Linked DNA regions of Homo sapiens: all the other regions are linked to region 2. The links come from fine-mapping of genetic effects on gene expression. A gene starts in region 2. Each other region holds a variant in brackets. All regions are shown on one strand. Distances are between the middles of the regions. Region 1 overlaps EPHA4 (EPH receptor A4). Region 2 holds the start of SGPP2 (sphingosine-1-phosphate phosphatase 2). Region 3 has its middle 32 kb from the start of SGPP2.

What was found. PIP is the estimated chance that this variant, and not a neighbour inherited with it, causes the effect.
Region 1: its variant is fine-mapped to the expression of SGPP2 in monocytes after LPS (Fairfax 2014, PIP 0.95).
Region 3: its variant is fine-mapped to the expression of SGPP2 in whole blood (TOPMed, PIP 0.95).

The regions. Positions count from the first base shown.
Region 1 is chr2:221,475,839-221,483,838 of GRCh38, forward strand. It overlaps EPHA4 (EPH receptor A4), which reads right to left. Exons shown (of 18, transcript NM_004438.5): 5 at 6,514-6,852. Among named protein-coding and RNA genes, the nearest start is that of EPHA4, 92 kb to the right of the region's middle. The variant G/A (reference allele first, on the strand shown) is at 4,060.
Region 2 is chr2:222,418,537-222,430,165 of GRCh38, forward strand. It overlaps SGPP2 (sphingosine-1-phosphate phosphatase 2), which reads left to right and starts at 6,007. Exons shown (of 5, transcript NM_152386.4): 1 at 6,007-6,285. The coding sequence starts at 6,067. RefSeq lists enhancers at 5,251-5,550, 6,741-6,890, 6,941-7,000, 9,149-9,218, 9,429-9,548 and 1 more and silencers at 5,711-6,060, 6,151-6,380, 6,391-6,440.
Region 3 is chr2:222,387,119-222,398,747 of GRCh38, forward strand. No RefSeq gene overlaps it. Among named protein-coding and RNA genes, the nearest start is that of SGPP2, 32 kb to the right of the region's middle. RefSeq lists an enhancer at 6,634-7,231. The variant C/G (reference allele first, on the strand shown) is at 4,621.

The DNA.
Region 1 (8,000 bases), 940 kb before region 2:
CTGGAGGATTCGATTTGGCCCTTGGGCCATAGCTTGCTGACCCCTGCTTTAGGGCACTAAAGGAAGCAAACATTTGTGTCTTAAAAATATCATCATTTGGCCAGGTGAGGTGGCTCACACCTGTAATCCCAGAACTTTGGGAGGCTGAAGCAGATGGATGCACTTGAGGCCAGGTATTTGAGACCAGCCTGGGCAACATGGAAAACCCCATCTCTACTAAAAAATAGAAAACTTAGCTGGATGTGGTGGCGCCCGCCTGTAATCCCAGCTACTCAGGAAGCTGAGGCATGAGAATCGCTGGAACCTGGGAGGCAGTGGTTGCATGAACCGAGATCACATCATCTCATTTAGGTTTAGTATTCCAAAACAATTCTCAGAATCAGCAGGAATGTGCTTTCTGCTTGTCCCTTTGATCTCAGACCACAACTCAGGTCCACTCCAGAGGTGCCCCTCATACCTAACTGTGGGCCAGAACCACTCACTGTCACAACCTGTCTTTCAACACCTTCATTTCAGGCCAAACTGGACTTCCCAACATCTCATCTTTCTCCCTTGTCCTTTCTGTTTTTAGGGATGATTATGCAATAGTCTTGTTGTCTGACAATTGCATTTATCTCAACATAGTCAGAGGCAGATTTTTATTTACCGAAGCTAAAGAAGTTTGTATGGACCCTTTCTGAAGCTCTGTTACTAGTCTGACATTTGTAATTTTGTAGGGTTTTATGTTTTCACCCTTAATCACACAATAGTTGTTTAAGCTTTAAACTCCACAAAGTCTGGCTCTGCCATGCCTACAGCATATTACCTAAATTGATTGCTGTAAGATTTTCCCCTTTCTCCCACCATTTTCTTGAAGCTTTCCTCTTACTATCTAGAAGACAGGTAGCAATTATACCCAGTGGGGATGAGAATTCCCACTGTTCTCCATTATCCCACTCAAATAACATAATATGTCTAATTAAAAGATGGCAGAGAGAGAAAGAATGGGAACTTACCAGTTGAATAATAAAAGACAGTGTGCCTCTTACACTTAGTTATTTCTTTTCTTTATTCATTATTTTGGTTTTATTAAATTTATCATTACTTGACAAAGAGAGTTAACTGATTTGATTTTACTGTAAATAAATGTTAATCAACAAACAGATGGAACTGTACAATGACTACATGTGGCACAGTGGCATTATAATGAGGTGTAATGCCACTTTATTTTATTATTATTATTATTATTATTATTATTTTGCAGTTAATGCTTAATTGTCCAACCCTAGAGAACAAGGTCAGCCTAACAAGCAGCGCCCGTTCATCTGATGGCAAAACAGCTACAACAGGATTCATGAGGGGCCTTGAAAGGCCCTTTACAACTGCCTGTTCTCTGAGAACAGTAACGGGAGCATCATGCTTTCAGCATGGGGCAATGGAGCCAGAGAAATGTGGAATCTTCCCTATGTGTTCAGCCACAGGCCAGCTCAAGCAAAGGCCACATGGCTATGGAACCCTGAAATGGTGGGCACTGCTATGAAGTCTGTTCTTAAAAACTATTGCTAGAACAGAGTTTTTCAGCCTTAGCCCTATGGACATTTTGGACCAGAAAATTCTTCATTGCGGAGGATTGGGGATGCTGTGTTGTGAATTATAAGATGTTTATCAGCCTGCCTGGCTTCTACCCACTAGATGCAACTGCACCAAAAATTGCCTCTAAACATTGCCCATTAGGGGTAGGAGCAGAAATCACCCCCAATTTAGAACAACTGTTCACTATCTTACTGTTTTCCCCCCGCAACGTAAATCCCTTGGCAAGGCAAGGAATTAGAGAGAAGGAGGGCAGGCAGAATTCAGGTGATAATTCTGCTGAAGCATTTGGAGAATGTTTTCCCACTCTTAGAATTGCATTGAGAGACCATTTCTAAACATGTTAGAAGAATAAGCCTTACTTCTTCAGGTTCATAGCCCACAGCTCAGGGTTACATACTTAGAATCATAGAATTTTGAAACGGAAAAGATCTTAGAGATTAGCTGGTTTAAATAATTACGTAATGCATCAAATATTTTAACTCCTCCAAACTAAGCATGCTACAGATGTTTGTTTGTCACTAGGACACCATAGCTGTGCTAGAGAGAGATGACCAGATCTTTCCATTATGAAGTATCTAGAATAGCATCACATGCAAAGTAAAAATAAAAAATGGACAACACCGGCCCTGGGTGCAATTTGGGGTGAGGAGGGAACACCATTCATGGGGGTTGGGACCATAATGATTTAAAACGCCAGAATATGGTCCAGCCTCACAGCTAGAAAACCAAGCAAAGGCGATGGGAGATGAACGGCAAAAAACCGTTCAGAGATATTAAGCTACTGCTGGCTGCCATCACAGCCTTTTTAACAAAAAAAAAATATTCACAGGTCTGTTGCTTGGCCAGAAAACCTTGTTTCATTTATACAGTATTTCTCCCTCCTAGTGACACATCCTGTATTCATTTGCCTGAGATGGTCCACTTAAGTGAAAGTAAACCAAAGGAAAGCCATCCAGAAAACAAATCACCCAGCAGTTTGCTTATCCATTTTTCATAAACATCAGGACTACCTGCTTCTAAACAAAAGACAAAACAGTCGCTACAGGATGAAAGATGAAGGAAACTGGAATCTCATTTTCCTCCTTTTGGCCTGTAATGTAGAAAAGTAACTATTGGGGGAGCTCCAAGAGCTTCCTCTTCTCCAATTTTACTGGGTACGACTTCAGCTGGAAAAGTAACACCCCCACCCTTACTCTTTTCCCACCTCTTCCCTTCATTGTTTCTGGCATGGGGGTGAGGCTGGGAGTGACTCATCTCATTAGAGAATTTGGGAAAAGTACTCTGTCCTCAGCTCCACCCACTCTCAGACCTGTCTATCTGCCTATCTGCCTATCTGCCTACCTGTCTGCCTGCACAGAGTGTCCTTCCAACAACCTTAGCAGGGCAGGCGGAGAGGCTGCAGGTAGCCAGCTGGGCTGCAAGTGTCACTGAAGCAAGCCCTTTTGGCCACAGATATAAAGCTCACATCCTTCCATCAGCTTATCAGCAAAAAGCTGACAGACATTCAGATTTCCTTTGTCTTCTGTGTCAACTGGTTTTCAACCCAGAAGGGGAGCAAAAGGGTGTTTATTAACCCCCTAAGACCCCAGGAGTAAGATTTGGGTTAGGATTGTTTAAATAACCTTGTGAGAACACAGGCCCATTCACACCACATTCTACAATTAAATGATCAAAGCCCAGTTCAATCTCCATGTCCATGCCCAGATACTCACATAATCTGGTCTCATAAATGGGGAGAATGCCAAGCTGAATACATGAATGCCATTCATTATCTCCTAATTTTAAAGGAAAGCAACTTTCTACTTTCAGGAGTAGGATTCTCCCTGCTTTTTAGTACTGGCTCTGACATTAGCATGGGTGAGTCACCTCACCTTCATGGAGCTGCTCCTCAACTCTTAAAGTCTCAAAGGTGGTGAACATAGGACCCAAGAATTCTAGCAGGTTTTGCGTGATTGATTTGATTTATCATTTCTAACATATTACTGATGAGAGAAAGAACCCTGTGAAAACAGAGCAAAGATGGAGAACCACTAACTTTTGTAGCCTCCAGGTGCTAAATGCTAACGTTCATTAATTCTATGTATTCCTTATAGAGTGAGACACCATTGCCTATAGTGGTCCTCAAGGAATTTAATTTAATGAAATGATAGGAGCAATTGCAATTAGAACATAATTGTGTGTATGTAAATATGCTTAGGGGAGCTTCGATAGAGTTTACGGTTGCTACATTCACCCGAATTTTGGCCTACATTATTAATTTGCACTACTATGAAGAAAGGGTTTGTTAATCAAAGATAAACTATCCTGATGACTTGAATTAGAGAACTTCAAATTATGATAGGATAATGAAGCAGTGCTCTGCACATATACAATTCTCTACTAAGTGAAAGCTTTCTGGCTGGCCACATAGGAGGTCTCCTTATTGAAAGATTTATTTTTAATTTTGAACAGCTTCCCAGCATTACCCTTCATGAAAATTAAAATAAG[G/A]AGCTGGAATTTTGTCCTGTTCAGCAAACCTCCTTGGCAGGACTACATGCCATGGCAAAGAAAACCTTATTGTGTCAGAGTAATTCTCTGTCTGCTTTTCTCCTAAATCTAGAAGAATTATACCTACATTTAAAATAAAACTTCATCCCACCCCACCCCACCCCACCCCCGGAAATGTTTTTGCATTTTCTTCTTTTGGAGGATTTTAGTGTGTCTTCTTTGTGCTCTCTGGACCTTTTGCCCCAGTAGGTGTTGACATAACTTCTTGGCTCAAATCCCTACGTGTACAGGGGGTCATAGAAGTCTCCCCCAAAATCTGTGGGAGCCAAGCCTGTCCTCAGCGCATCTCCCACAGGCTTTTCTCTGCCAAGGAGAATGACTTCACCTTTTACAGATGAGGCTCCAAAAGTCCATCCCTACTTATAATTCGGTTAAGAAAATGATGTAGTGCTTGCGAATGAATAGCCAAAAAGGTAGAAGGGGGCTGCATGTAAGAATACTGATTGGATCATCAACCAGATTCTCCAGATGGTGCAGAAATCGTTCTGCATTGCATCAGCTCCTAATTCAGAGAGACCAGCAGCACCGATGCGTGTTCCCAGGATCTGTATGTAATATTTCCATTGCATTCTTCCAAAAGAGAACTAATAAACTGTTGGCAATCACAGAGTACTCATGTTTCTATCAAAAACTCCTAAATCATACTAGTCTTTGTAGAAAAATAAAACTAATGACTGCGAACAGTGTTCACAACCTAAAAATTCAGAATTAAAAGACAAAGGCCTAGCTGGATGACCCGTTCACATTAGATATTTTAAAAGACTGTTCACATTTGCAGAGCTGAAGATACATTCCGGTAAGACTTGCCATTCTAGCCCCTGCTCAAAACCTTCCCCAAGTCTTAACTTTTTATTTATTCCAAAGAGTTCAGGGCAAAATGGAAAAATAATGGCTTTGGATTGGGACACTGGAATAGTTTTCACTTATAGGATCAATTAGTACAGATATTTTACTAAACTATTGAGTGCACTTACTGAAACATTCATTTAAAAGAAAAGTGCAGTTAGAGGCGATAGGATTGTTGGCAATTTATAATCCTTTTCTGGCTATGTTTTCTATCCCAAGAGCCTCACAAAGAATAAGCCACTCTAACTCTGTTTCCCTTCTCCTCTCTAACTCTCCAGAAATAAAAAAGCCGGCAATGTAAAACTCCTGGAGGGGTGGTAACTTTTTCAGGGAAGGAGTACAGATGAGTAAGTCAGAAGCGAAAGCCTAGAAACCTAGATTTTCAAAATATTTGATATTCAAGATTTCATGACAGTTCTGCGATTAACTCAGTAGAAACACTTCATGAACAGGAAATGTTTTCTAGTCATCTGTATTAGCAGAAAGTGATGTAGGAATTGGAGGAGACTGGCCGCCCCACCCTCCGCCCCACCCTCCCAGCCCCCACGTCAATCAAGAAATCAACTATAAAAGTAGCTGCAATCACGCCTGTAATCCCAGCCCTTTGGGAGGCCAAGGTGGGCGGATCACGAGGTCAGGAGTTCGAGACCAGCCTGGTCAATATGGTGAAACCCCATTTCTACTAAAAATACAAATAAAAATTAGCCAGGTATGGTGGCACCCGCCTGTAGTCCCAGCTACTCGGGAGGCTGAGGCAGAAGAATTGGTTGAACTCCAGAGATGGAGGTTGCAGTGAGCCGAGATCACGCCACTGCATTCCAGCTTGGGCGACAGAGTGAAACTCTGTCTCAAAAAGAAAAAAAGAAAAAAGTAGCTGCAAAACTATTAAGTGTCTTAAAGTAAACTTCGTTAACTATAGACACAAAGATGTACATGGAGGTTCTAGTATAGGTCCACCTAGATCATTTATAATATTTTACATTAAAGCATAAGATCAAAACTATTGCTGCTAATGCTTTTGTTAGAAAATATAACAAATACCAAAAGAGCACTCTGCATTGGTAAAAATCAATTTTATAATTGTACATAATCTATAAGTGCTCTGATGTCCAGCCATGGACATCATAATTCAAATGACTGAGATGAATCCCATCCAGCATGGAGTGACTCAGCTCACTGCAACCTCTGACTGCTGGGCTCAAGCAATCCTCCCACCTGAGCCTCCTGAGTAGCTGGGACTACAGGTTTGTACCACCATGCCTAGCTAATTTTTGTATTTTTTTTGTAGAGATGGGGTGTCATCGTGTTGCCCAGTCTGGTCTTGATCAAACTCTCAGGCTCAAGTGATCCACCTGCCCTGGCCTCCCAAAGTGCTGGGATTACACGTGTAAGCCACCGTGCCCAGCCCCTAAGTATCTTTTACATTATAACGCAGCTCCCAGGCTTGATTGATTCTATTTCAATTATAGCAATTTATTATAATTCATTATTTTAAGCCTTTTCTCTGTATACATTCAGATCATACAATAAAGTAGATTCAATTCCTACCTGCTTGGTTGGTGGTCACAGTGACAGAAACTGATTGGTCTGGGTTAGGGTTATATTTGGACACTCCATTCACAGCCCAGATTTCAAAGGTGTAATTGGTATGAGCTAGGAGGTCAGTGATGGAGACTTTGGTGGTCTTCAAGCCATTCTGCTGTGGGGTGTAGTGGACCCCACTTCCACAGGGTCGGCACTTGCTGGGGTCACCAGCTCCACATTTCTTGCATACCACATTATAGGAAATGTCCTGGCGGCCACCTGTATTCTGAGGGCTACTCCATTCCAAGTTCACAGATGTCTCGTTGACATTTGAAATCAAGTTCAGGGGAGCAGATGGTGGACCTGGAGAAAGAAAACCACATCATCACACCAAGAACCGAAATACCCTTTTGGAATCTCTCAGAGTTTGTATTATTTTCTGCAGCTCTCCAAAGCAAGGCAAACCCACTTGGCAAAGAAAGCAAAAAGCAAATCAAGCCAGCATAAAAGATCTTTTAAAAGAACAATATAATAGAAGGCTGTTACGTGAGTGTCATTCTCTTTCCCACGCAAACAAACAAGGCATCGGTTGTCACTTTGAGATGTGAAGCAACTCTCCAGCAAATGGGCTCCAAGCCCAGGCTTTCCCTATGAAGTGGCAGAAAAATATCATAATTTATCTGTTCCATCTTATCATCTAAAAAAATGAAAGTGATTCTAGTTCCCAGGGCCGTTGTGAGACTCTGATAAATTAATAGTTATATACCACTTCTGAAGGTAAATTATAATTCCTAAGTACAGCATGTCATCAATAGCAAATAAAATTAACAGAACTGTAGAAATGTGCCTCTGCAGTTCAACATGGCAGCGGAGGGTTAAGCTGTTTATGGGTAATTAGTACGAACTGGTTTAACGCGGTTGCAGAGATGTTGAAGATACAGCTGTGGCGAGATGGCAGGGGTTTTGTTCAAGGCTCCCAGACCCCTCCTCCTGCCCTTTAACTCGTGCATTCCCAGCAACATCAAAGAGTTTCTGAAATATGGGTGATGGCAGTGGTTGTTATGAAACAGAACAACTGATTACCGACAACATACTGGTTGGTTAAAAAATAATATTAATAATAAAAAATAAGACTATAGATCATGATGAAACTCTTGTTTCTTGATGTAGATTTGTGTGTGTGTGTGTGTGTGTGTGTGTGTGTGTGTGATGGAGTCTCGCTCTGTCACCCAGGCTGGAGTGCAGTGGTGTGATCTCAGCTCACTGCAACTTTCACCTCCCAGGTTCAAGCGATTATCATGCCTCAGCCTCCCAAGTAGCTGAAAATACAGGTGTGTGCCACCACACCTGCTATCTTTGGCGGAGTTTGGCCATGTTGGCCAGGCCAGTCTTGAACTCCTGATTTCAAGTGATCGGCCTACCTTGGCCTCCCAAAGTGCTGGGATTACAGGTGTGAGCCACCATGCCCGGCCATGATTGGTCTTAATAGGGCAAAAAAATTGTGACACAAA
Region 2 (11,629 bases):
CTATTATTGAAATACAGAAACTCTCCATCCAACCAAAATCACGTGCTCACTGATCCCAGACACAGTAAACACTTTTATTTTATTGAGGAGCCTTGACAAGAGTGAGTGTAAAATATTATCAAATGGCTTTTCTACATCTATCAAAAGGACGATGTATTAGTGTCCTAGGGGTGATATGACAAAGTACCACAAACTGGTAGTTTAAAACAATAGAAATTTATTGTTTCACAGTTTTGGAGACCAGACATCAAGGGCCATGCTCCCTCTGAAACCTGTAGGGAAATCTTTCCTAGCCTCTTCTGGCTTCCAGTGATTTGCTGGCAATCCCTGACATCCCTTGGTTTGCAGCTGTAAAACTCCAGTCTCCACCTTCATCATCACATGGTGGTCCCCCTCTGTGTCTCTGTCCTCATGTGGTCATCTAAGTGAGTAAGCATCTGAGTCATAATGGATCAGGGGTCCACTCCATTACAAGTTGAGTATGCCTTATCCAAAATGTTTGTGGCCACAAATGTTTCAGTCTTCATATTTTTTCAGATTTTGGAATATTTGCATTTCATTGACCAGTTCAGCCTCCCTAATCTGAAAATCCAAAATCTGAAATGCTCCAATGAGTATTTCCTTTGAGTGTCATGTCAGTGCTCAAACAGTGTTAATTTTGGACCATTTTTGAATTTTGGATTTTCAGATTTAGGATACTCAACCTGTAACAGTATGACCTCTTCTTGACTAATTATATTTGTGGAGACCCTCTCTCAAAATAAGATGACATCCTGAAATATTAGGAATTAGGATTTCAACATATCTTTTTTAGGGTAGGGAACACAACTCAGTCCATAACAGATCATATGATTTTTCTCTTTAGTTCTATGAATATGATAGATAATATCAATGGATTTCTAATACTTAACTTATTTGCATTACTATAATGAATCTCACTTTTTAAATTAAAAAGTATTTTTTTAATGAGCTGCTGAAGTCTGACTCCTGATATTTTAAGATTTTTGAATGATTTTCACAAGTGATAGTATTCTGTCATTTTCTTTTGGTACTATTTCAGGTTTCAAGATCAATATATTGCTTCATAAAAGAAAATTTGAAAAATGTCTTCATCTATGATCTGGAATATGTTAATTAGCATTGTGATTACCCATTTTTTAAATGATTGATAGAATGTTTTTGTGAAGCCAGCTAGGCCTGGTGCTTTCCATAGAGGAGTATTTTAACCCCCTTTCTCTAGCTGTTTTATGATAATTAGTCTGGTTAGACTTTCTTTTCTGGGATCAATTTTAGTAAGTTGTGTTTTCCTTAAATAATATCTATTTCATCTATTTTTAAAACTTATTTTCATAGAGGTGTACAAAGTAGCCTCTAAGGCTTTTAAAATTTTTCCTCTGCTTTTAATGATTATTTTTCCTTCAGTATTTAAAATTTTGTGCTTTTGTTTTTCCTCTTGTTCTTTCTTTATTAGATTAGCTAATGGTTTGTCTATTTTGTTGCATTTTTTCCCAATAACTCTATTTTGCATTTGTTAGTTTCATTGTTTTTCTCTTTTCTAATTTAAGGATTTATACTTTCTTTGAAGAGGTCCATAATTTTGGCAGATTTTTGGGATAATTCTGATTCCAGATTTGAGAATTACAGCTGTGATACGTGTAGTTTTTAATAGAAATTGTCATCTGGTGCTCCATTTTTTTCCCTTTAGTATTGTTTTTATATTATTGCACGCGTTTTTCTCTGTGTATGCATCTTATATGTGTGCAACAGATGGAAGCTCCTTGAGGCCAAGACTATGCATTGTATTTCTTAGGGACAATAAATATTGATATTGTGGCTATGAAATTAGAGAATTAATGTAAACATGAAGAACTTGTAGTATGCAGCTTCTGAAAAGGCTCCCAAGAATCCCTACCATTTACTACTCATATTCTTGTCTCACTCCCTCTGTCCTTCAGTGTGGGCTAGATCTAGGGCCTTGCTTCTATGAAGTAGAATAGGATAAAACTATTGGAATGTTACCTCCAAGATTGGGCTATAAAATACTTCTATTTTGTCCTGTTCAGACACTCTGTATGTCTTGATTTCCTCATTTGCTTGTTTTGGTGAAGTAAAGGGCTGTATAATGAGCTATTCTATGAAGAGGCTGTATAATGAGCTATTCTATGAAATGGCCCATGTGTTGAAAAAGAGGGAATGGCCTGTGGCCAACAGTCTGCAGCTAATTGAATCTACCAACCATCGTCTGAGTGATCTTGGAAGCAAATCCACCTCCAGTTGAGCCTTGAGATGATGTAGCCTCAACCAGCACCTTGACTGTGACCCTGTGAGAAACCAGAGCCAGGGGACCCAGCTAAAACCACTTGGATTCCTGCTCTGCAAAAACTTTGAGATGATAAATGTTGTTGTTTTAAGCTACTATTTTTATGTGATAATTTGTTATGCAGCAATAGATAATCAATACAGAACCCAAATTCTGTATACTTGTCTTGATCCAGGAAGCATTGCCCAATTGAAAACTGAACAGTCTAGTTGTAATTTGGAAGTAACGTGCTTTGCAGAGAAATAACTCTAAATCAGAACTTAAAATGCAATAATGTAATTAATACCAAAATTTTTCATTTATAATGAAGGTATTTTGACAACACTTAAAAAATTACTTTAACTTATTAAAGGTTACCAGGTGTCCCTGCCCCCATTTTTTTTTTTTTTTGAGATAAGATCTCACTCTGTTATCCAGGCTGGAGTGCAGTGGTGTGGTCATGGCTCACTGCAGCCTCAACCTCCTGGCCTCAAGCAATCCTTCTGCCTCAGCCTCCTGAGTAGCTAGGGCTACAAGTTCATGCTACCATGCCTGACTAACTTTTACAATTTTTTTGTAGCAATGGAGTCTCCCTGTGTTGCCCAGGCTGGTCTTGAACTCCTGGCCTCAAGCAATCCTCCGCCTCAGCCTCCCAACGTGCTGGGATTACAGGCATGTATGCCTGGCCAATTGTCTTTTGGAATAACTTATTTTTAGTGTGGCTTCTTTTAAAAAATTCTATCTGCACATGAGTATTTATAACATGCCAAGTGAATGACAAGCTGCCTAGATAAAATGTGTAGATTATGGCTGAATTATAACATGGATTTTTACTGTACAACATTTTAACCAACATTAGTTTCCTAATACTGGTGGAGACTGCTGGTTGCCCACAAAAAAATTCTGTCCTCCACTTCTTCCACAGGAATATAGCTTAAGCTTGACATAAGGTTGCCCTGCTAGAGATAACATTTCCAATTGTTTCTCACTGATGGAATGTTAGTGAAAGTGATGTGTGAACTTCTGCCTCACTTGCTTAATAAGACATTGCTGCTCAGAACACTCTCTCTCTTCACCCTTTCAGGAGCTGAACTTCAGATGTTCAGCCCTAACCCAGATTCAACCATGCAAAAGAGGACGATGACCTAAGGCTCAGTTTCAGGGCATGGTGGAGCAATAAGATGAAAAGAACCAGAGTCATGGAGTAGGGCCATGGAGCAGAGCTTCCTACTAACCTCAACTGCTTGCCTTAGAACCATTCTATGAAAGAGAAATACATGTCTGTGTTCCTTAAGCCACTCTATTTTGGGGTCTCTTTGTTATAGTAGCTTAACCTTTATCCGAACTAGTATTAATATATCCATCATTGATTCCTTTTAAATATGTCATTTTGTAATTGTTACATATATACAAGTGAGCAAAGTACAAATAACTGGATTTCTGCCCTGGCAAAAAAAAAAAAAAAAAAAAAAAAAAAAGGTCGGGGGGCGGGATGTGAAATGTATTTCCCACAGGTATGACTAGTGTTCAGTGATCAAAGAACTACAGGGTGTTTCTCTGGTATCAAGAAAAAAAAATTTTTTGCATGACTGCAAGCTACTATTTGATATCTCTGCACCATTACAGCAGTCTTTCAGTCCTACCACTTCTCAAAGATGTTGATTTTTGTTAGGTTGGTTGGGAAATTCATGTTCAGAATAATCAGACTGGGCCTTAGAAAAAAAAGGTTCTGGGGAAATGGACTTTACCACTGCCCAGGAGGCTCAAGATGTCCTACTCAAGATGTTCAGAGCCAAATTCTCTTGAGGATTCCTTCCTAGATTGAATGACTCCAGCACAATACACCTTCTTATCATGATCTCACTAGGCCTTATAGAGCTTGTCTCAAGGTTATTTTTACAAGAGCCTTATAAGAAAGACAAGAAGTGAGGATTATCATTTCATTACAGGGATAAACTGCGACATATGGTGACTTACATCAGGTGACTTGGTGAGCCACTAGAAGCTGGAATCAGTAACTGATCCTCCATGGAGATAAAATGCTCTGTCTACAAATACAATTCTTTGGCAATTAACTTAATGCTGCGTGTGCCATGTTTTGCTTTGCCTATTTTTCCTAACTGGTAGAAAGAAAAATCGAAGCACTAAATTCGGGAGACACATGATGCAAGTGCCTTCACAGGAAAACATATTTCTTTAACACATAAGCAGAACAGGTCCCCAACGATCACAGCTCCAGCTTCTAAAACCAAACCACAGGGTTTTGCCTCACACCTGTAAATGACAGCCAGAAGCATTGTGGAGAGATGCTTCCACCTCCTGGGCCGGACATTTCTGTGTGTGATCCCGCCAGACATGACAATAACTCTGCGTGTCTTCTGTAAGAGGAAAATGGTTTCCCTTAAGAGCTTCAGCATTCTCTCAGTCCCCTTGACTTTGCTCTCCAGACAGGACTGAGAAGCAAGAAAAGTAGAAACTAGGGCATGAAGGGGACTACATCATCCTGGAAAGTCACATCCCAAAGACATTCAGGCCTAAAAGGACAACTGAATAAATAAGGCATTGACAGGTGTTCATTAATCATTTGTGCAACCAAATTCTTAGTAGGCTTTGCATGGACAATCAGGAAACATGCAGGTTTCTGCTGCAAACGAAAGACGGGGTTGAATTGCACTTTTGTTGCAGACTGATCACCTGGGCCTAATTTGATTGTTGCCTCCCAAGGGATCTCTGAGCCCAGGAGGGAAATGTAGGAGGGAGGAGGGAAAACCAAGGCCGGCCTGCAGGATGTTTCCTTTGCTATCTTCTGCTGAGTGCTCTAAAGCAGGTGCAGGTGCAATGAGATACCTAATCCTGTCCCCAGTCCTCCAGCACTTTGTTCTCTTCTCGTTTAAACTCCCTAAATGGTCTGGTGGGGTTTTCCCAGTGTCATTGCTTAAAGAGAGGCAGAGCGGAAAGAAAGAAGTAGGAGAAAGCGGTAAGCATCTTTGTTCTCAATGCGGAAAACCCAGAAGGGACTTTCCTTCCCACCCACCTGAAAATGTTCCCCAGTTGCCAAATCAGAAGGGCAGGGGCAGCGACGCGGAAGATGACTCAGGGCCCACTTTGAACCTCCTGGGTACTTGAGCAAGCTCAAGGGTGTTCGGACCTCTAGGGAGACGTTGCATCACGCAGTTTGGAAAGAACTTGGGAATTCTCCCTGGGGGGCTCGCTGTATTTACTGGGAACTAGTCTTGCAGGAAGGTGAGAGTACGTGGCTGGCTGTGGGGAGCTGGCGTGGGAGGAAATCCGACTTCACCTTGGGCTCAGAGTTGCAAGGAAGGTCACTGTGGGATCAGCCTGAGCCCAAAAGGATGGGCTAATGGGAGCGGCCGCAGGTGCACGCGCGCTCGGCCGCTCCCATTAGTGTTACGTCTGCCGGGGGAAGAAGGTGGGGTGGGGGGTTGGGGGCGCCGGGAGAAGAGAGGCGCAGTTCGGAGATCGGCACTCCTCCGTCCAGTTACAGGCGGTCCTGCCCCCGTGGCCGCCCGGGGCCGCCCAAGCCCTCCGGGACGGAGAGAAAGGGGGACGCGTTGCGCAAGGTGGAGGCAGACACCTGGGCGGGCGCTAGGACCCGGGCGGCGCACCTGTTGGCTGGGCCCGGGGCCCCGCCCGCCCGGCCTCCGCCCGGAGTGCGGGATCGGCGGGGGCGAGGCGGGAGTGGCGGTGCCAGCGGAGGGCACCGGCCCGGCGTGGCAGCGGCGGCGGAGCGCGGCCCCGGGCACACCATGGCCGAGCTGCTGCGGAGCCTGCAGGATTCCCAGCTCGTCGCCCGCTTCCAGCGCCGCTGCGGGCTCTTCCCCGCTCCGGATGAAGGCCCCCGGGAGAACGGCGCGGACCCCACGGAGCGCGCGGCGCGGGTCCCCGGGGTCGAGCATCTCCCCGCAGCCAACGGCAAGGGCGGCGAGGCTCCGGCCAACGGGCTGCGCAGAGCCGCGGCGCCGGAGGTAACCATGGGCAGGTGTTCGCCGGGTACGGGGAGGGGGCGGCTGCGGACGTGCGGGTCCCTGCGACTCCGCCACGCGGGGCCGGCCGGGCCGAGAGGGCGCCGTCCCCGGCAGTGACCCGGCTCCCGCCGCTGCGAGCGGACGGGGAGGCCTGGCCTTCCAGTAACCAGGATGCCACCCTCCAACGCTGCCAGGGGCAACCGGGTCTATTGAGATATCCCCAGACGCTTTCAATGCAGTCCATTTAGAGACTTCCCACTTTCAAAAGTAGTTAAATTCACGTAGATGCCAGCAAATATGTAAGAGTTACGTAATGGAACGGAGGAGCGGGGATGTCCTTGGCACTTCCCCGGGGAGACGTTCTTAGACTCCCCCCCACCCCCGTATTCTTGCATTTCCGCCCATCCCCCTTCCCTGATGCGCACAAATGCGGGTGCAGCCGGGCTCAGCGCGCTCCTCACCGCGCTGCACCGCCAGCTCTGGGCACAGAACTTGGGGCTCACACAGCTCCTAGAGAGATTTACAACCTCCCTGCACTACCCCCGGCGATGATGTCTTAACAGCAACTCTCGCTTGCCCTCCCCCAGAGTCTGGGGGTCCCTCCTGCCTGGTGGGTCTTTTATGGACCGACACCAGTGACTTCTAACAGATGCTTCTGGGAGGGAAGCTCGCTACGCTCCCGCTAGGTGTTCAAAGCGTGGTTATACAACCCACTGCGGCTTGGGGGGAACCAGCGTGCGTCGTCGTCGCAGTGCACAGGGACTTTAGGCAGCAGGGACCAGACGGGCTGCACTTGGCTTCTGGGGACGCATGTCTACCGGGAGCACTGGCAGCACCTGCCTTTTCCCTCGGCAAAGTCAAAAGTGTGGCGCAGGAGAACAGAAATAAACGTATTAATAATTCGAATTCCTTGTACACAGCCACATTTTGTTCTTCCTAGAAGGTTTTGGTGAAAGAAAGGTGGCCTTTACTTACGTGTAAATTTCTAGATGTAGTAACTGAGGAATTACGAAGAACCTGGCTTCTGTGTGGAATGGAATATTATAGGCATTGGATTACAGAATTTGTTTGGGAGGGTGAGGGTGGTTGTGTGTTCTACTCCAGAGAAATCCTCCTCTGTATTTTTTCCTCTTTATTGTTCCTTCTTTATCCCATGTGACATTCCGGTAACCTATAGATGAGTATGAGAACCCCTCTTTTTTCTCTTGCCTTGTCTTAAAAACGGGGCAGAGTAGGGGGGATAAGAAATCAGCTGGGCGTGGTGGTGCGGCCTGTAGTTCCAGCTACTCCGGAGGCTAAGACAGGAGAATAGCTTGAGGCGGAGGTTGCAGTGAGCCAAGATCACGCCACTGCACTCCAGCCAGGGCGACTGAGCGAGACTCCGTCTCAAAAAAAAAAAAAAAAAAAAAAAAAGACCAAAACAAACAAACAAACAAACAAAAAACAGTCCCATGGCTGAAACGTGCCGTGACATATTCGGTGCACACACTGTTTACACCCACAGGTAGACACGTGAGTTGCTTTCTGTTGCTCTCTTCACAAGCTTCTACCCTGTTTCTCTAATTCAGGAAGCTGAAAAAGAGTGAATTGTTCCACCAGTGCTTCTCAAACTGTTTTAAACATCACCCCTGGTAACTTAACTTTAAACTCCACAGTTGGATCCTCTTGACCTTTAAAAGCAAGCTAAGCAGATTTCTTACACAGTTTTATCTTCTTACTGCTTGACAATCCTGGTGGGTCTTCAGTGAGTGAAATTGTGGCGGTTTCCCCACACCCACCCAGCCAACACAGGACTTCTGCTTACAGATCATGTAAAAGCAAGAAAGCTGAATGCCCAAGATAAGAAATCATTGTGTTGGTATATAATGGGGGAAATCATAAACTTGAGAGTGCTTGATAAATGAAAGGTTAATTAATGTTTTTACAGGTGGGTTGGTTTCAAATGACTTGGGAAGATTAATCCTTTACATACACACATTGATTCCCCCCCTCAAAAATTATCTCTTATCTACACTCAGGCAATTTACAGGACTTTAAGGGGGCAGTTGTGAAAAGTGTGCTGCCCTCTCTGCAGGCCTTTGTACAGGCGTTGGCCTGCCTGAGCTGCCTGTCTTTTCTCTAAATATCCTCCCCACTCATCCTTCTATTTCCAAAGGTCAGTTCCTCCATGGGTGACTTCTCTGACCTTCCAGCCTAGCTCCCCCTGCTATAGTTTTTCTTTGCTTTCTGCATTTCTTCATTACAGCATTTATCACGTTGTTTAAATGTGCCTTTGTGTGGATATCTGATTATTCCCCGCCCCTCCAGAGGATGATAAACTCTAAGAATGCAGGCAACTTTTCTGTTATGGTCCTTATTTTTTTCTCATAGCCTGGCACGTAGGAGGGACTAGTGACTTTTGTGAATACATGCATGTAGATTGCAATATAAAATTATAGTTTTAAACTTTTTTTTTAAGAGACAGGGTCTTGCTGTGTCACCCAGGGTGGAGTGCAGTGGCACAATCATAAGTCACTGCATCTTCCACATCCTGGACTCCTGCAGTTCTCCTGCCTCAGCCTCCTGTGTAGCTAAGACTACGGATGCATGCCATCATCTGGTTTGTTGTTGTTGTTGTTGTTGTTATTGTTGTTTTTTGTAGAGACAGGGTCTCACTATGTTGCCAAGACTAGTCTTAAACTCTTGGCCTCAAGTGATCCTTCTGCCTCAGCCTTGCAAAGTGCTGAAATTATAGACGTCAGTCACTGTGACTGGCGATGTTTCGTTTTTCTTTAAAAAAAAATGAGTGAATGTTGAAAATCAAGTGATTTTTCCGCATAGCCTAGAAGGTAGCACCAGGACGTTGATTTAGGACCCTTCAAACAATAGAGAAGTTTTCTTCTTCATTTGAGTGACTTTAGATCTTAATGAATCTGATTTACCTTCTCACCTTTCACATTGTCTATATTTGTTTTAATTTTGAAACAGGACAAGTGTTTCCTGTTTTCAAGTGACTAAAAGTTTCCTCTACAAGTTCTCATTACACCACACGCTGCTAGCTTAAAGATTAACTGCATCTTTTACAAACCAGGAGTGGGCTTGGCTTGTACAAGCCTGTCATTGAATAAATTGGACTGGGCCTTAGAAATTGCCCAGTAGTCATGAATTTCACAGAAAGTCTGAGTCCTGAAGGGTTAAGAGATTTATTGAGGACTTCCAGGATATCCACACAGTCAGGGGAAGTCAGATCTTTTGACTCCCAAGTCTAAACTTCTTTCCTCTGTGCAGATTCCAGGGAAAATTCCAGGGCCTCACTGTATCTGATTCACTGAGGTGTGTCCTGTTGGTACTGGCTGGGACAGGGTGGAGATCGTGTGAAAAGAGGTGGTATTGCTTTCAGTTTGCAAGGGTATCTGACTTGCAAGAGTAACTGTAGGAAGCCATTTTTGGTTATTGCTTTGGGAGGCACTGCCCTGAGCAGAAGGCAGGATCCTAGGACTGGGCCAGGAAGGTAAAGGTGTGATGAGAATTTCATTTATTTGTCCTGGGGTAAAGCCAGCCTCGTATATAATGGTATTTTGATTTCTAACATTTTTGCTTACTCAATACAGTTGTATTTAGTTAGACTCTGCAGTGCCTTCCTCAGCAGTACATTAGACTAAGGATCATCTTTTCTAATATCCCTGTGTCCAGTACTTTTTGATAACTGCTCAGACATAGTTCTCACATTGACTTAGGGAGAGGTTCAAAGATAAGTTGTTTCTAGAAATCTTAGACTCCTAGTTTCCCTCTTGAAACATTTGAGGCTCTAAATCTGTTAATCTACGAAACCTTGATTTCATTGGTGTGCTAAAGTACAAATACTACATCCTGGAAACCAGGAGACCAGGATCTAGTTTTACCTTCATGTCATTTTGGACTTCTCTGAACCTCGGTTGTCCCATCTGCAGAATGAGCAGAGTGGGGGAAAAAAAACATGGTTTTCTTTTTTTTTTTTTTTTTTTTTTTTGAGACAGAGTCTCACCCTGTCATCCAGGCTGGAGTACAGTGGCTCCATCTCAGCTCACTGCAACCTCTGCCTCCTGGATTCAAACGATTCTCCTGCCTCAGCCTCCCAAGTAGCTGGGATTACAGGCATGCACCACCATGTCCAGCTAATTTTTGTATTTTTAGTAGAGATCGGGTTTTGCCATGTTGGCCAGGCTGGTCATGAACTCCTGACCTTAGGTGATGTGCCTGCCTCAGCCTCCCAAAGTGCTGGGATTACAGGCCACCTCCCAAAGTGCTGGGATTACAGGCTGGGATTACCGCACCCGGCCAAGAACCATGGTTTTCTAACCATGGCTGTACAGTATAGTCACTTAGAGAAGCTTTCAAAACAAAACAAACATAAACCAATGTCCAAGATCCAGGTTAGAAGAGGGGTCCAGAGAAGCTGACCAACAAAGTTGGGAAGCTCTGAGTTCTCTTCTCCTGGGACCCACCACCCTTAGTATATTCAGTAGGAGGGTGGTGATGGCTGCAGGCAGTGGTCATGGCAGCCGTGACATTTTGGCTTCACCATAACTAAACTGGCCAACAGATCAGACTGCAAGTTTTTATTATCCTTTATTGGATGCTTACATCTGAAATGACAAAATGAGATAGTTCGAAAGAATATATTTGATCTTTTTTTCTAGTTACAGATATCATCATTGTTCACAGGAGAAAACTTGGAAACACACGAAGAGAAAGTTAAATTCATGCCCGTTATATCACCGCCCATTGCTAATCACTTAGTAAATGTTCAGCCCAATTTTTAATGGCCGCATGTTCCTCCACAGGATGGATATACTGTAATTTAGTCAGCTAGGTGCTGTGCTTTTGGTTTGTTTCCAGTTTTTGCATTAAAAATGATAACATCTTTGTACAAGTATCTCTCCACCTGTCTTTGATTATCTTCCAAATAAAATGTCCAGACTTGAAACTGTTGAGTGAAAAAAATGCATATATTATTGCTCTTAATAGCTACTACCGAATTGCCCTACAGGAAGAGTCTGCTAGGGCAAACCACTACGAGGGCAGGTTTTCCCACACACTCACCAATGTTAGGTGTTAAACCTCTCTTTAATCTTTGGAGAAAATAAACCACTTTGGCTTCTATCTCACCTTTGCTTTCTTCATTTCCAGTCAACATCCATTGATCACTACCATGTTTCTGGGACAGTCCTCAGACTTAGAGACATAAAGATCAATACAATTTAGTTTCTTCTGTGTGAAAGCCCAAATAAAAGGATGCAGTGCAAAAAATAAAAAAAATACTAGAATAGAACGATGAATACAAGGACAGGAAGACAATAGCAGGAGTAACTCACCTTCCCAGGGG
Region 3 (11,629 bases), 31 kb before region 2:
GCAAAAGAAGACCACAAGTAGGTGGATCAGGATTGGCATCAGTTCACAAAGTCAGTGGAGACCTAGGTTATTTCTGTCTGTTCCATGGTATTAGTCTGTTCCAGCTGATATAATAAAAATAATATATATTAGATGGCTTAAACAACAAACATTTATTTCTCATTGTTCTAGAGACTAGGGAGTCCAAGATCTAGGCAACAGCGATTTAGTATCTGGTGAGGACCTGCTTTCTGGTTCATACATGGCTCTCCTTTAGCTGTGTCCTCATATGACAGTAAAGGGCAAGACAGCTCTCTAGGATTTCTTTTATAAAAGCACTAATCCCACTCATGAGAGCTCCATCCTTATGACCTCATCACCTCCCAAAGGTCCCACCTCCAAATACCATCACAGTGAGAATTAGGATTTCAACATATGAATTTGTCGGGGGCAAAAGGGACACAAACATTCAGTCTATAGCACCCATCACCCTAGTGATTAATTTCTGTCTTCATAGTCACCTCTTGCTGCAAGATTGCTGTTGAAGCTCCAGCACTCAACTCTGTATTCCAGGAAGCAGGAAAAAGAATAATGTAATACTCCCCATTGGCCAGAACTTTGACAATGCCCACATGTATCTGAAAGAAAGACCAAAAAAGGTAATTATCAGCTGAGCACATTGCCACCTTGAATAAAACAGGCTCTAATTACTAAGGGAAAAATTAGAAGAGATGTTGGATAGGCAATTAGCACCCCAGTTACTGGTTACTATTAATCAGTCCCCAAATTCTAATCAACCATGGAGTTGCCTAACGCAAGTTGCTGCACTTCCAAGATTAAAGTAGGTTCACCAAGGCAATATCTCTACCAAGAAATTGAAAGCTTGCTGGGTAAAGTGGGGGTAAATTTTATAAAAGAAATGTAACTAAAAGGAAAATACAGTTGATCCTTGAGCTACATAGTCCATTTATAAGTGGATTCTCTTTGCCTCTGCCACCCTGAGACAGCAAGACTGAACTTTCCTCCTCTTCCTCCTCCTCAGCCTACTCAATGTGAAGACAATGAGGATGAAGAACTTTATAATGATCCACTTCCACTTAATGAAGAGTACGTATATTTTCTCTTATGATTTTTTAATAACATTTTTTCTCCAGTTTACTTTATTGTATGAATGTAGTATATAATACATATAACATGCAAAATATGTATTAGCTAACAGTTTATATTATTGGTAAGTTTTCCAGGCAACATAGGCTATTAGTAAAGTTTCAGGGGAGTCAGAAATTATACAGGGATTTTTGACTGTGCAGGAGGTCAGCACCTCTAACTCCTGTGCTGTTCAAGGGTTAACTGTGTAAGTCCAGAGATAAGTTTTAGATTTACTTTGACTCAGAGGTTCATGTGGACATTAGGTCTTTAGCCCTGTTTATTTTTGATTCTTAAAGCTGTGTCCTCCTCCAGCTTCACTCTCAGGATGACTTGGCTGTGGAAGTTAAGCTTCTGTCAATAGCTGCTAAGTCGTCTGTCTGCTCTTCCTTCCTTTCTTCCTTCCTTTCTTCCTTCCTTCCTTCCTTCCTCCCTCCCTCCCTCCCTTCTTTCCTTCCTTCCTTCTCTTCTTTCATAAATAAGGTATATTAAGTGTCTTAACTCAGAATTTCCCAGCTGTTTCCCAGCAACGTCAAAAGTACTAAAGTAGACAGAATAGTTTCTCCCTAAGATGTCCACATCCTAGTCTGCAGAACCTGTGAATATATCACCTTCTATGGCAAAACGGGCTTTGCAGGTGTCATTAAGTCAAAGATCCTGAGATGGGGTGATTATCTTAGATTATCCAAGAGGGCTCAGTGTCATTGCAAAGGTCCTTATAAGAGTGAGGCAGGAGGATCAGAGTGAGAGAAGGAGATGTGACGAGTGAAGCAGAGAGGAATGCAGGCAGTCTCTAGGAGCTGGAAAAAGCTAGGAATGGGTTCACCCCTAGAATGCCCAGAAGGAACTCAGCTCTGCCAATACCTTGGTTTAGCCCCGTAATACCCTTGGACTTCTAATGTCTGGAGCTGTAGGATAATTATTTAAGCCACTAAGTTTGTGATGCTTTGTAACGTCACCAATAGAAAATTAATATAGTCCTCAAACCAGTGCTTCAAATTATAATGTTCTATGAACTCGCTTTACACTATTTTAACTAAAGGGCCCAAATATTTTAATTCTATTTTTAAAGTTGTTTTCACATATTTAATAATTTTAATGTTAAGATATGTAATATCTGATAATGTCAAATAATATCTGCTAGATAGATAAACCCACCACCAATTAACACACTAGAACATTACCAATTTCATTCTGTGTGCTTCACCTGATCCTATCACCCACACCCCCAAAGGTGTGGGTGATACCTTGAATTATATATAATATATAAATATAATATATTGATATAATAATGTATTAACAATATATATTAGTGTATAACTTATATTATATATAACTATATTATTGTATATTAATATAAATTAATGATATATAATATATTAATTATATATTATTATATGTGATATAAAATACTTATATTTATACTGTATATATGTATATACACACATATATGTATATATGTATATATACACATATGTATATATGTATATGTATATATGTATACTGTATATATGTATATACACACATATATGTATATATGTATATGTATATATGTATACTGTATATATGTATATACATATATACATATATGATATATATCACATATATGTGATATATAAATATATTTATATAAATATAATATTAATATTTATATTATGTTATATATAACATGTTTATATTATGTTATATAAATATTATAAATATATATATTTCTATTTTATATGTATCACTACTCAAGACATCGCGTGTTCTTGTTTTTGAAAATTATAGTATTGTAAATTGTTCTCTACAAATTACTTTATGTATTTATTATTTTTAAAGAATTTTTTTAGATAGAAACAGGGTCTCACTATGTTGTCCAGGCTGGTCTCAAACTGGGCTCAAGCAATCTTGTTTCTAATATTTATCCATATGGTTATGTGAACTTACAGTTCATTTATTTTCACTACTGAAATATATTCTATTCTGAGACCATATCACAATTCATCCATTCTCCTACAGATGGATGTTTACAATACTTTCATTTTTTTGTTATAATTATGAACCATGCTATTATGCACATATTTGTACGTGCCTCTTAGTGCACATGTATAAGAGTTCTATTTTAAAGATAATGCAAAGTTGTTCTCCAAAGTGATAACAATTTCCATTCATATCAGCAATGCCAAAGTGCTCTCATGGCTCTAGCTAATCACCAGCCTGTAGTATTTTCATACCTCTTAATTTTTGCCATCTTATAGGCTTAAATAATGTCTCATTAGAGTCTTATTTTGCAGTTCTCTGATTACTAATAGTGTTTAGCATCTTTCCATTATTAAAGTTGCTCTAATTATGTGGTTCATGTCTTTTATCCATTTTCTGCTGGATGGTTTGTCTTTTTCTTATCGACTTGCAAATAATATGTTGCTAGTTATATAGCTTGTAAATATCTTCTCCCAGTTTTGGGCTTCTCTTTTCATTTTCTTATGATGTCTTCTGCAGTGCATAAGTTCTTAATTTTAATAGACTCAAATGTATCAATATTTCCTTTCATAATTAGCAGTTTTGCCTTATGTTTAAAAATCCTATCCTGAAAATATATTTTCTTACATAGCCTTCGAAACATTTTTAATCTTGACATTTCATATGCAAATCATGATCCACCTGAAATTTATTTTTGTGGGTGGTGTGAGGTATGAGTTCAGATTTATTTTTTTCCATATGGATAATTAGAGGCCAGCACCCATGTTGAATCTTCCATGCTTTTCCCAATGATCTGCAATGCCATCTTGTCACATTTAAAGTTTGCTTATGCGTGTGCATCTATTTCTGGGCTCTATGTTCAGTTTCATTGGTCAATTTTTCTCTCCCTGAGCCAAAACCAATAGACTTAATGATGCTGGCTTTGAAATAAGTTTTGACTTCTAACACTGTGAACATCTATAAAACAGGACAAAGACATGAGACAACAGCACAGGGCTGTGATCCTTAAGAGTAAGACACAGAAGGGGAGCTCCACATCCAGCTCTCTTTCTGCCTGTGGCATTTTCTAAGCCAAGGCATTGAGAAATGGAGCTTCAACAAAAGCTGTGCTCTTACTGGATGGAGGAACAAAGATCAGATTTGGGGGCTGCTGAGGCAACTGGAAGTTGTGACATAGGTGTTGGAAAGAAGGGAGATAATAGAGAAAGGCTTCTGTTTGGTTCAACACTAAGCTCAATCTCTGAAGGTTTCACAGAGCTGAGATCAGTAAAGTTATAGCCAGTTAGTGTAGAGAGATCTATTCGAACACTGTGGCAATGAGTTGAGATTCTAGAGGACTATTCTTATGGAGTAAAGCTACCCTAGCCTTAAAGTGAGGGCTTACGAAGCTGATCTTACAGCAAATTAACTCCCTACAAGAACAAGGCTCAGCATTCTTGAAGGGAGACAACAAAATCCAAAGTCCTAACAACTTAGTACAGATTGAGCATCCCGAATCTGAAACTCCAAAATTGGAAACTTTTTGAGCACCAG[C/G]ATGACACCACAAGTGAAAAATTCCACACCTGACCTTATGTGATGGGTCACAGTCAAATAAAGGCACACAACGCACAGTTTATTCAGCATCCCCAAGGGAAAACGACCCTCCCAGCCCCCTTCAGCTGTAATACATCTTTTCGGCACACACCCAGATTCTCCCTGCAAGCATGCCCACGATGAGTAATGAAACGACACACGTATGTACAGGCTGGATCCATGTTCCCCATGATGCTCCACATGGGGCCAAGACCTACATGCATTACTCACTGTGTTTTCTTGCTTATTCTCTGCACTGTGGTATAGATATTGTTGCAAATGTCAAAAAATCTTGCAGATATCCTTATGAGTACAGTGATAAGGAAAAGAGGAAGTATTTATGCTTATCCATAGCACAGAAAGTCCAGCTGTTGGAGAAACCAGCCAGTGGTGTAAGTGTAAAACATCTTACAGAAGATTATGGTATTAGAATTACCAGCATACATGCCCTGAAGAAACAGAAGGATAAACTGTAGCAGTTCTATGCTAAAAGTGATGAACATATATTAATGAAAGTGAAAAATGGGAAAATGCTGCATAAAGCTAAAAATGAAGATCTTGATCATGTGTTGAAAAGGTAGGTCTGTCTGTGTCACAAAGAACACATACAACTTAATTGTTTGCTAATCACAAAACCAGTAAAGAACTATCACAATGAACTGAAAAGTGAAAGGAACTGTAAATATTCAACAGACTGATTGCAGAAATTTGAGAAAGACATACTAATTTTTCTTAGCACATCTTGTTGTTGGCATTTCATTAATGAAGTTTATTTTTCTAAAAGAAATTTATTATCATTAAAATTATTATACATACAGAAAATGTATTAAACATATATGTGCATTTTACTTTTTATTTATTCTATTTTAATTATTTTATTTTATTTTATTTTATTTTAAGGCAGGTCTGGGTTTATTGCCCAGGCTGGAGTGCAGTGGCATGATCTGGGCTCCCTGCAACCTCTGCCTCCCAGGCTCAGGCAATCCTCCCACGTCAGCCTCCTGAGTAGCTGGGCCACAGGCACGTGGCACCACACCCAATTAATTTTTGTATTTTTTGTAGGGATGGGGGTTTTTGCCATGTTACCCAGGCTAGTCTTGAACTCCTGGACTCAAGTGATCCGCCCACCTCAGCCTCCCAAAGTGCTGGGATTACAGAGGTGGGCCACTGCACCTGGCCCTATGTGCATTTTAAAGAGTACTATCAAAGCAAACATCCATGTGAAGACCACCCAGTTTGGGAATGGTACTGGCAGTACCCGAGAAGTTCCCTCTATGACCTTTCCTTTTGAGGCAGGAAAATAGGGTCTGGGGGCAGGAAACATAAGGCCTATTGACACTTCAGCTATAACAGGAAATATCCTCTCCATAGGGCATACATCGAGTAAATGACTTTGTAACTTTACTTCATCCTCTTCATTTACATAGGGGGTACCCCAAGTGGAGGGTATTTAAACTCACAAAAACTCTGTAACAGGGCCTTTGAGCCCCTATGCTCGGGCCAGCTCCCATACTGTGGAGTGTACTTTCATTTTCAATAAATCCCTTCATTCTTTCCTTGCTTTGTGCGTTTTGTCTAATTCTTTGTTCAAGATGCCAGGAACCTAGATACCCTCCACCATTAACACTTTACAGATCTGCAAGTATCATCCACACTTTTGTAACAAACTTTTCTATGTGTTTCTTTATAGTTTCTTTTATCAGAATGCTTTTTATTTGTATTTTATTGTGGGAAAATCTTAATATAATCACTTGATCTCATTGTGTAATTTCTGATGAGCTCTATTGGACAAAGTGACTGGACATAACTTGTGATAGTAAATGGAAGAAGGAGTACATTTTCACCCTTAGGTGTGCTGTGGCCTTAGCATTAATTTCATAAATGTTTTCTTTGGACTCACTTCAGAGCCTCTGGGGTCAAACCCTACTTTGCTCACTGGTGGTCCCAGAATGATACCCAAAAGAGAGGTAGATATATCCTTTGGGGTTAACAATGAACAGAACCTGTAAAAATTTGAACCACTGCTTTAAATTTGTAAAGACTGCTGGTGATTAAGCATCTGCTGATCACAAAGCAGCAGAGGAATTCACTGATGAGTTCGTCAAGGTCATCGCTGATGAAAATCTGATGCCAGAACACATCTATAATACTGATGAATCAACACTTTTGGCCTTATTGCTCCAGAAAGACACCGACTACATCTGATGAGAAAGCCCCTACAGGAATTAAGGATGCAAAGACAGAATAACTGTGCTGGGATGTGGTAACACAGCAGGTATGCATGAGTGTAAACTTGCTGTGATAGGCAAAAGCTTTGCTGTCCTCAAGGAGTGAATTTCTTAGCAGTCCTTTATTATGCTAACAAAAGGCATGGATCGCCAGGGACATCTGACCTTCTTACATATTCAAGAAATGTATCCTTAAAATCCATCAATAAGCTGGAAGAAGGTGATAATTGAAAAAGTTTTTAACATCAATAACAAGGCTCCAGTTGTTTATTCAATGATCAATGGTGAAATATGACAAAACAGTTCCCAATCAAGATGATGATAATAGTGATGATGAAGATGATGTCAACACTACAGGAAAAGTATCTATTGACAACATGGTGAAAATGTGTGGTGGGCTTTTTGAAGGACTACAGCAGTGTATATTTATAACAAGACAAGAAACCTTCTCAGTTTATAAAATCAAGAAAAGACATCTAAGCAAAAACTCATTGTTAATGAGGCAGATTATTCTGGAGAAAACATTTTTAAAAGCCATCCTGCAGAATGCCTCTTCATTCCTAGAGGACCTATTTCCTGGTCCCTCAATTACTTTTGATGTTTCTTCTTACCAAACAAAAAAAAAGAAAAAGAAACACACTGTCTAGTAACCTTTTAGTCAAAGAAAAGCATCAGGTGGAGGTTGCAACCTATCACTGTTTGTTGTTGCCGTTGTCTAACAGCTGAGACAGGTATTCTGGTGATGCTACTGTGCTACTTAGTTATTCTGCACACAATATTTCTTCATTGTATTAATGGCATATCATATGTTTTAATGTTAAGTATTTATGTGTGAATAAGCTTAAGAAAATTATTGCTTATGAGTAGCATATCAGTTTAGAGCCAGGGATGATCGTGATGCCAAACAATCAGATTGTTCACATGGGTGGCTAAGATTGTGACAGCTTTGCTTCCTGGTGGCTCAATGCACAAAAACTTTGTTTCATGCACAAAATTGTTTAAAATATTGTGAAACTGCCTTCAGTCTACGTATATAAGGTGTATAGGAAATATAAATAAATTTTGTGTTTAGACTTGGGTCCCATCCCCAAGATATCTGATTATATATATGCAAATATTCCAAAATCTGTAAAAAAAAAAAAATTCCAAATCCAAAATACTTCTGGTCCTAAGCATTTTGGATAAGGGATATTCAACGTGTATTAACAATGACCAGCATACAAGCTAGGCATGGTGGCTCACACTGTAGTCCCAGCTACTCAGGAGGCTGAGGCGGGAGGATCACTTGAACCTGAAAGTTCAAGGCTGCAGTGAGCTATGATTGTGCCACTGCACTCCAGCCTGGGAGTGAGACTTCATCTCTAAAGAAAAAAATGGCAGAATACAATGAAAAAAATACTTGATATGCAAAGAAGCAGGAAAATGTGCCATAACCAGGAAAGAAAAATTTAGCAAAGTTCTCCCATCTTTGCATCCTCAATGGCAATGACCAGATGTTGAATTTAACAGACAAGCACTTAAAAATAGCTATTATAAATATATCCATGGATGTAAAAGAAAATATGCATATAATGAGACATAAAAATGGGGAATATTAATGTAGTAATGGGAATTCTAAAAATTAGTAATACCACATTTGAAACAAAAAAGTTATATTTTCAGGAAATAATAGATGGAATTAATAGCAGATTGAAAATTGCAGAGAAAAAGATCCATGCACTTGAATAAGAAACAATAGAACCTATCTGGATTAGTCTGCTAGTAATACATAGCAAAATACCACAGACTGGGTGGTTTAAACGAGACAAATTTATTTTGACAGTTCTGAAGCTGGAAGTCCAAGATCAAGGTGTCAGCAGGGTTAGTTTTCTCTAAGGCCTCTAACTTTAGATGACCACCCTCTTGCTACCTCTTCATATGGGTGTCTGCTGTGCACATATACCCTTGGTGTCCTTTCTCTTCTTATAGGACATCAGGCAGATTGGATAACTCTGATATTCTCATTTTATTTTATTATTTTATTTATTTTATTTTATTTTAATTATAGGCTTCTCAGCTGTCATATTTTCATTTTAACTCAGTCCCCTCTTTAAGACCTTATCTCAAAACTTGATTACACACTGAGGTACTAAGGGTTGGGAATTCAAAATATGAATTTGAGGTAGGGGCACAATTTAGCCCATAATACTATCTAAGAAGCTGAAGAAAAAAGATAGGGGGAAAAGCTGGAAAAAAAGAAAAAGAAAAGCATCTTAGTAACTTATGGCAAATATTAAGCATTCCAAAACATGTGGAAGTATAGTCCCAGAATGAGAGGATTCAAATATTAGAACAGAAAATATTTGGAGAAGTAATGACCAGAACTTTTCCCAATTTGATGAAAGATATCTGAAAGCTCAGCAAAACCCAAGCAGGCAAGTTCCAAAGAAAACCACACCTAGATATATATTAGTCCAATTCCTGAGTCTTAGAAGTAGCCAAAGCAAAAAGGTTTTACAATCAGGGAAGTAAACATAAGAATGACCACAGTCTTCTCATCAGAAAAAATGGAGACCTAAGCATAAGAAGATGACATCTGAAAAGTATTAAAAGGAAAAATCCCTGTCAACTCAGAATTTTTTTTTTGACAGAGTCTAGTTCTGTCACCCAGGCTGGAGTGAAGTGGCATGATCTCGGCTCACTGCAACTCTGCTTCCTGGGTTCAAGTGATTCTCCTACCTCAGCCTCCTGAGTAGCTAGGACCATAGGCACACGCCACAACGCCCAGCTAATTTTCGTATTTTTAGCAGAGATGGGGTTTCACCACATTGGCCAGAATGGTCTTGATCTCCTGACCTTGTGATCCTTCCGCCTTGGCCTCCCAAAGTGCTGGGATTACAGGTGTGAGCCACCGCGCCTGGCATCAACTCACTCAGAATTCTATATCCAGCTAAAATACATTGCAATACAAAAGCAAAATAAAGACCTTTTCATGTAAATGAAAGCTGAGAAAATTTATCTCAAAAGGCCCACATTGTAAGTTTTTCAGGCTTAAAGGAAATCCTACCAGCAGGAAAGTTGAATCTTCACAAAGGAATGAAAAACACAGAAAATGATAAATATATAGGTAAATAAAAATAAGTTTTGTTTCTGGTAGGACAAATCCCTTTATTCCTTCCCCTCCTCATCATTCTTCCTCTCTCACCTCTTCCTCCTTTGTCTTCAGGAGTAATATCTTAGCTATTCTTGGCTTTTTTTTTCTATCAGTTTTAGAATCAGCTTGTGTGATAGACATAGATTTGCTTTCATAGGCCTCCTTCAAGGAAGAATTTGCTGGCAGGCTGAAAGGAGTACAGTCAGCAGACAGCCCCCAAATATCACTTTCTTTAAGATTAGCCTCAGCTTCAGAGAACCACCTACACAGAGACTTGGCCTTTCCAGGGCAGCCTTTATCTGGTGATTAAGTGGGATGAGGAATATTTTGGCCTGAAGTAGGATGCTCTGAAGGGCAGTACTTTTCTCAGAGCTCACCACAGGGTTGGTTGAGACTTGTCAAGGCTGCATCAGAGTTTAACATCTTCCTCTGTCCAATCCTGCTTCCTCCCTGTTCCTTTCACACCTTCCTAGTTGATATGGTTTTGATCTGTGTCCCCGCTCAAATCTCATGTCAAATTGTAATCCCCAATGTTGTAGGTGGGGCCTAGTGGGAGGAGATTGGATCATAGGGGTGGATTTTCCCCTTGGTACTGTGTCATGATAGTGAGTGAGTTCTCTTGAGAGCTGGTTAAAAGTGTGTGGCACCTCCTCCCTCACTCTCTCTTTCTCCTACTCCTGCCATGTAAGACGTGCCTGCCCCCATTTCTGCTATGATTGTGGTAAGTTTCCTGACACCTCCTCAGAAGCCAAGAAGATGCCAGCATCAGGCTTCCTGTACAGCCTGTGGAAACATCAGCCAACTAAATCTCTTTTCTTTATAAATTACCCAGTCTCAGGTATTTCTTTATAGCAATGTGAGAACTGACTAATATACTTGTAAACATCTAGCACCCCAAACTCCATCTCAACATCTGCTTTTGGAGTACACAAACTATCAAGTCCCTTGAAAAAACTTATTAGAATTTTCATAGCAAATGAATTGATAGTATAGAACAAGTTAGAAGTGACATTTTTTAACACTGAGTTTTCATATTTATCCATATGACATATTTCTTCACTTATGTCTTCTTTAGTATCTTTCAATTAAGTTTTCACATTTCTTATTAAAGGTCTTGCCCATATTTTGTTAGATTATTTTCTCCTATGTAGCTAGGAGAAAATATTTTTGACTGCATTTATATATGCACACACATATATATGTTTAAAGTAAGTTTTCTGAAGGTTGCAAGTTTGTGAAACTGTAACTGGCTTTTGTGTATTGATGATATGTACTTTCTTATTCATACACAGGGCAGAAAGCTATTTTGATACCCTGACCACCAAACAAAAGGATTGAGCTTTGCTCTGATTGAATCACTGGGATCACATGCCCATTCCAAAATGAATGACTGAAGCTGGGAAAATGCTGCATGTTGATTGGTTGGACCTGGGTTACATAGTGCACTGATCTCTGTGGCAACAGAGGTAGAATTATGCAACTATTGGAGGCCAATCAGGAGCCACAGCAGGATCGCATGGCTAGGAAACTGAGGGTCTGATTAGGAAAGATGAGTGGAGGATTTGTTGCTCAGGAAGGGGCCCATTATGTCCACTACTCTGGAAAACAC